Homo sapiens: one gene and its partner. The protein of the gene in region 1 interacts with the protein of each later gene in a biochemical or structural test. Each region holds a gene or a part of one and is shown on either strand. Other genes may lie near its edges.

Region 1 (3,500 bases):
TAAGAAACGCATGTTGAAATATTTAGAGATGAAGTGTTATGATGTTTATAACCTATTTTGAAATGATTCAACATTAAAAGTCATAGCTAGAGCCAGGTGTGTTGGCTCACATCGGCACTTTGGGAGGCCGAGGCGGGCAGATCACTTAAGCTCAGGAGTTCAAGACCAGCCGGGCCAACATGGTCAAACCACGTCTCTACTAAAAATACAAAAGTTAGCTGGGCATGGCCAGGCACAGTGGCTCACGTCTGTTAATCCCAGCACTTTGGGAGGTCGAGGTGGGTGGATCATGAGGTCAGAAGATCGAGACCATCCTGGCTAACACAGTGAAACCCCGTCTCTACTAAAAATACAAAAAATTAGCCAGGCATGGTGGCACACACCTGTAGTCCCAGCTACACAGGAGGCTGAGGCAGGAGAATCACTTGAACCCAGGAGACAGAGGTTGCACTGAGCCGAGATTGCACCACTGCACTCCAGCCTGGGCAACAGAGTGAGATTCCATCTCAAAAAAAAAAAAAAAAAAAAGCTGGCTGTGGTAGCGTGTGCCTGCAAGCCCAGCTACTCGGGAGGCTGAGGCAAGAGAATCGCTTGAACTCGGGAGATGGAGGTTGCAATGAGCAAAGATCGTACCACTGCAGTCCAGCCTGGGCAACAGAGTGAGACTCCATCTCAAAAAAAAAAAAAAAAGTCATAGCTAGTGATAGAGGAAGCAAATATGGTAAAATATAACAATTGCTGAATGAACTAGGGGGTAGATATATAGATATTCATTTTATTTTTTAAATTTTTTAGGTGTTTGAAATCATTCATAATAAAAAGTTGAAAAAATACCAAATAAGTCTGGGCGCGGTGGCTCATGCCTGTAATCCCAGCACTTTGGGAGGCCGAGGCGGGCGGATCATGAGGTCAGGAGTTAGAGACCAGCCTGGCCAACATGGTGAAACCCCTTCTCTACTAAAAATACAAAAAAACTAGCCGGGCATGGTGGCATGCACCTGTAGTCCTAGCCACTTGGGAGGCTGAGGCAGGAGAATGGTGTGAACCCGGGAGGCGGAGCTTGCAGTGAGCCAAGATCGCACCACTGCACTCCAGCCTGGGCAACAGAGCGAGACTCTGTCTCAAAAAAAAAAAAATTATCTGGATACAGTAGTACACACCCGTAGTCCTAACTACTCAAGAGGCTAAGGCAAGAGGATTGCTTAAGCCCAGGAGTTCATGGCTGCAGTGAGCTATGATGGTGCCACTGCACACCAACATGGGTGAAAGAGTGAGACCCTGTCTCAAAACAAAACAAAACAAAAAAACCAAAAAACTCAGAGCCTGAGATTATATCATTTAACCTGTTACCATACCTGTGAGGTAGATACTTTCATCGTTCTCATTCTACACGCAGGAAAGCTGAAGCTTAAAAAAAAGACTTCTTGAAATTTGCCCAATTTCCCACAAATACCAAGTAGTACAGCTAGGATGAACCTAAACTATCTGATTTCAAAGCCCCTACTCTTATCATTCCTTACCTGGATCAGTTAAATATAAATCAGATCACACCATCATGCCCTTATTGAAAACTTCCACTCTCTTCCCATTAGTTAAAATGAATTCAAACTCCCTCCATGGCCTGTAACGCCCAACATACACCAACTCCTGATACAACTGTGACTTTATCTCTTGCCATGCTGCCTTTGCTCCCTATGCTATAAATTATGTGTATTGGCTTTTTTGTTTTCTGTTTGAGACAGGGTCGCACTGTCACCCAGGCTACAGTACAGTGGCACAATTATAGCTCACTGCAACCTTCAACTCCTGGGCTCAAGCCATCCTCTCATCTCAGACTCTGGAGTAGCTAGGACTTCAGGGTCACGCCACCATGCCTAGCTAATTTTTTTTTATTTTTTACGGAGACAAGTCTGGCTATGTCGCCTAGGCTGGTCTTGAACTCCTGGCCTCAAGCGATTCTCCCACCTCAGCCTCCCACAGGTGTGAGCATCTATGCCCAGCCTTAAATTATGTGTTGAGTGTCTCTTGTCAGATATTGTTCTAGGGACTAGAGCTAGAACACAACTAACACAGACAAAAGTCTCTATCTTCGGGGAGCTTGTATTCAAGGGGTCTGCTTGATGTTCTTTAGACATTTTCCAAGCAAGGGTTCTGTACATTTGCATATTTGTTGCTCCTCTTACCTGGATCATTCTTCCCAACACAGCTGGCTCTTTATCCTTAGGGTTTCTGTCTAAATGTCAACTCTAAGAAAGCCCTTCTCTAATCTATCTGAAAAACAAGGCTTTCAGTCATCCTCTATTCTTTTTTTTCTTTTTCTTTTTTTTTTTTTTTGAGATGGTGTTTTGCTCTTGTTGCCCAGGCTGGAGGGCAATGGCACGATCTTGGCTCACTGCAACCTCTGCCACCTGGGTTCAAGTGATTCTCTTGCTTCAGCCTCCCGAGTAGCTGGGAATACAGGCGTCTGCCACCACGACCAGCTAATTTTTGTATTTTTAGTCAAGACAGGGTTTCAACATGTTGGCCAGCCTGGTCTCAAACTCCTGTCCTCAGGTGATCCACTCACCTCGGCCTCCCAAAGTCCTGGGATTACAGGTGGGAGCCACAGGCACCCGCCAGCAGGCCCTGCTAATTTTTTTGTATTTTTAGTAGAGACGGGGTATCACTGTGTTAGCCAGGATGGTCTCGATCTCTTGACCTCGTGATCTGCCACCTCGGCCTCCCAAAGTGCTGGGATTACAGGCGTGAGCCACCACGTCCGGCCTTTTATTTTATTTTTTTGAGAGAGGGTCTCATCCTGTTGCCTGGACAGTGGCGTGATCAAAGCTCACTGCAGCCTTGAACTCCTAGGTACAAGCAATCCTCCCACCTCAGCCTCCCTAGGAGCTGAGACTATAGGCACACACCATGATATCTGGCTTTTTATTTTTTAGAGTCAGGGTTTCACTTATGCTGCCCAGGCTGGTCTCAAACTCCTGGCCTCAGGCAATCCTCCCACTTCAGCCACCCAAAGTGCTAGGATTACAGGTGTGAGCAACTGCAGACAGCCTCTCTTACTCATTTTTTTCTTCTGAGTATTATTTTTTTTTTTGAGATGGAATCTCACTCTGTCACCCAGCCTGGAGTGCAGTGGTGCGATCTCGGGTTGCTGCAACCTCTGCCTCCCAGGTTCAAGCAATTCTCCTGCCTCAGCCTCCCAGCTAGCTGGGATTACAGGTGTGCGCCAGCATGCCTGGCTAATTTTTGTATTTTTAGTAGATGGGGTTTCACCATGTTGGTCAGGCTGGTTTTGAACTCCTGACCTCAGGTGATCCACCCCCCTCAGCCTCCCAAAATGCTGGGATTACAGGTGTGAGCCACTGCACTTGGCCTTCTTCAGAGTATCTATCACAACTTGAAATCATCTTATTTTTCATTTTATTTACATGCTTATCTGTCCTTCATAGTAAATAAGCTCCAGAACAGAGACTTTGTTTTGTTCCTGCCCAGTTCCTAAAGTA
Region 2 (3,500 bases), on another chromosome or scaffold:
TTCCAAATGACGACAGCAGATGGACCTACAGAGGCACGACGTGATCTAGCCAATGCCAACATGTCTAGCATTATCTAGTACCATCTCTTCCTTGGACTCTCTGGTTTCTAGTCACTGCTGAAATTCAGTCTTTAGTTCAATCTAAACTTTCACTTCAACAGAGAAACTTTTCCTAATCATCCTACTAACACTAGCACCCTGGACTTGGCTGAGGTTTCCTCTCACAGCATTCTGCACTTCTTCAAGACATTCTTCACAAATGTTCACGATCTGTCTCCCCCGATAGACTGTAAGCTCCATGAGGACTATGACTACGCCTGTTTTGTTTAGTGCACTATGTCCCGCACAGAGTCTAGTGTTTGGCATACAGTAGATGCTCCATAAATGTGTACTAAGAAAGACTATGACTCTGCTTACCTGTAACTGGGAGATCTGAGAAAGCTGGTTTAGCTGGGATAGCTGGTTCAGCATGGCTACCTGTTGAGGGCCAAAGAGTGGATTCAGGCCACCGTTGTTTGGTGCATACTTCAGCAATGAAACTGGAACCTTAGGATCACAATGGTAAGTTAATGATCTTGATAAAATAACTCACACTAACTACACGTACTGTGTGTTTTCAGTTGTCAATAGAGCAGTTAAATTTGTGGACTATTCATTGGGGGTTATAGTCTTTGTCTCTGTCTTACTAACTGACCACTCACTTACACTTTTTCGTGGGTTAAGTAAAAGATGACAGAGGTGCATCTTAAACTAGTCAATTTTACTTTGCTTTTGTCCTACTCTCAAGAATGTTTTAAAGAAGAAAATGGTAAATTTTGGATTTAAATTATCCTTGACTTTTCCTTACTACAACCTTTTTTAATAGTTAATTCAAAACTAGCTGAATCTCAAAGATGCCAATAAATATGATAATGCTTAGTTAGCCATTTTATTCAAATACAAAATCATGCAAGATCCTTTTTGCAGGTAAACAGGAGAATGTAAGGAAAGCTTATTTACCTGAGGGGAGAGTAATGGAGGAGGCACTTGAGCACGGAGATTAGGCTGAGATGAACTAAGAGGTTGTGCTGGAGGCTGCTGCATGCCCCGGGGTTGTGCTGCTGTGTTTCCAACACCAAACATACTGGGATTGCCATTCTATAAAAACAAACAGCAACAAGTAACAGTGGGATTCTTTAGGGACAAACATCTCATTACCACACTGTACTATGATTTAAACACAGTAACTACATGTAAGAGAGATCTTATTACTAATACAAATCATTCAACTGAGAGCCTAAAATACACATCTGGACTTACCTGTCTAACAGAATTCAAGTTTTGCATACCCAGCCCTGCTATGGAGCCAAGGGCCTGGTTAGGTAGTGCACTATTTGAAGGGGGAAGCTTCATGCTTTGACTGGACATAAACTGCATGTTTTGGGATTCATCTGCTACAATGCCATCCTGATTGGACAGACAGAAAGATGTGCAACACCAGCCAAGCAAACAAGTGGAAGGGAGAAATCATTGCAGGAACAGAAGAGAAGTCACATGACATTCCAGCATCAACAGGAAACAGGTAGAAAACAGAAGAGATCGGATTAGTGTTAATTCTAGAGCACACAAAAAGAGCCAAACATATTTCATGGGATTAAGAAGAAAAATATAAATGCAACCTCTATGATAAATTGAGACATAAAAAGACAGTGAACTTCAAAATCCAGTAATAAGATTTGGTAGTGGATTGTAACACTTTATATTATATAAAAGGTTTTAAAATATTAGTGTGAAAATTACGCTATGAAGTATACTGGTTTATCAAGTCAGAGGTAAAAGTAAAAAACCTTACCTTATCAAAATAAGGATTGCGCTCCATGGAAGACTCTTTGGAAATCTGAGGCCGAGAACCAGGGCCTTTCCCGACCGTTCGATTGTAATCACCAATATTTAGGCTATGTTTATCTATCTCCATTCGTTTGTCTTGTAACATTCCTAATAAAGGCAGGAGACTGTTATCAAACAGGAAGACAACCCAATTGGTTTCAGATAAATTTACAACAAAAGCAAAACACTCACTTTCCAAACTGAAATGACTTCAGCCAAGACAAGGGTATGTGAAAAATACACTTCCATTTCATAAATTTTGCATTCCTCACAAATGAAGTCGCAATTAGGAGATACTGTTATTTTACTGAAATAATTAACTTGAAATAGACTAGTAAACAGAAGGTGGCTGGCTGATAACCTCACTTTTTTTTTCTTTTTTATTTTAGACAGTCTCGCTTTGTGGCCCAGGCTGGAGTGCAGTGGTGGGATCTCGGCTCACTGCAACCTCCACCTCCTAGATTCAAGCAATTCTCATGCCTCAGCCTCTCGAGTAGCTGGGATTACAGGAGTGTACCACTACACCTGACTATTTTTTGTATTATTAGTAGAGATGTAGGTTTCTCCATGTTGGCCCGGCTGGTCTTGAACTCCTGACCTCAAGTGATCCGGCCGCTTCGGCCTCCCAATGTGCTAGGATTACAGGTATGAGCCACCAGGCCCGGCCTCGTTTTAAAAGGACTCTTAGGTTACATAACTTAAGGCACCTTTAGCCATCTCTAATCTGCTGAGTTTTATAATACAGGTAAGTTTCCATTAACAAGTAATAAAAACAATCAACACCCACTGTGATAAACCACCATTTAATAAATGCCTGGTTTATGTCAGTCGCCATTATAAGTGCTTTTTCTTTTCTTTTTTTTTTTGAGAAGGGGTCTCACTCTGTAGCCCAGGCTAGAGTGCAGTGGTGTGATCTTGGCTCACTGGAACCTCTGCCTCCCGGGTTCAAGCAATCCTCCTGCCTCAGCCTCCTGAGCAGCTGGGATTACAGGCACCCACCACCACACCCAGCTAATTTTTTTATTTTCAGTAGAGACAGGGTTTCCCCATGTTGGCCAGGCTGGTCTCAAACTCCTGACCTCAGGTGATCTGCCTGCCTTGGCCTCCCAAAGTGCTGGATTTACAGACGTGAGCCACCGCACCTGGCCTATGAATGCTTTATGTGTACTAATTTAATGTTTGTAACTCTACTGTTATCGCCCTTTTAGCAGATGAGGAAACTGGACACCAGACAGGGTAACATCTTCCCCTCTCTTAGGCTTTGCTCTGTCTGCTCCTCTCCTCATTCTGACTGCTCTGCAATAAAAAATGATCTTCTCTCCTGGAAACTTTTTTCCTGCAAAATCTTTGCTGGATATAGCCAGCTCCGGCCCAAAAGCTACTGCTCTATTTCAACAAATCTTTTAAAAGTGGACAATGCTCTCTACCACCCCTCCTCACCATCTGTCCATTCTGGTTTCTCTTCCTCTACCCATGCTGAGCTCACCTCGGGTGCTTCTTCAATGCTGGGATACTCTGCGGCTGACAAAGTAGACTCAGGGTCTCAGTCTTTTGACTCTCTCTGTAAACTTGCTTTCCTTAGACTTCATTCACTATCAGGGTATCAGCAGTCACTCCCATTCAAGTGATGCCCA

The links.
Region 2: the proteins of CNOT10 (region 1) and TNRC6A form a complex in vitro, tested with the Homo sapiens proteins (one study listed by BioGRID).

What each region holds. Positions count from the first base shown.
Region 1 is NC_000003.12:32,688,188-32,691,687, reverse strand, and holds part of CNOT10 (CCR4-NOT transcription complex subunit 10), read right to left. Parts: intron 1-3,500. UniProt on the Homo sapiens protein: Component of the CCR4-NOT complex which is one of the major cellular mRNA deadenylases and is linked to various cellular processes including bulk mRNA degradation, miRNA-mediated repression, translational repression during translational initiation and general transcription regulation.
Region 2 is NC_000016.10:24,802,651-24,806,150, reverse strand, and holds part of TNRC6A (trinucleotide repeat-containing gene 6A protein), read right to left. Parts: intron 1,975-3,500; coding exon 1,832-1,974; intron 1,447-1,831; coding exon 1,300-1,446; intron 1,138-1,299; coding exon 1,000-1,137; intron 547-999; coding exon 418-546; intron 1-417.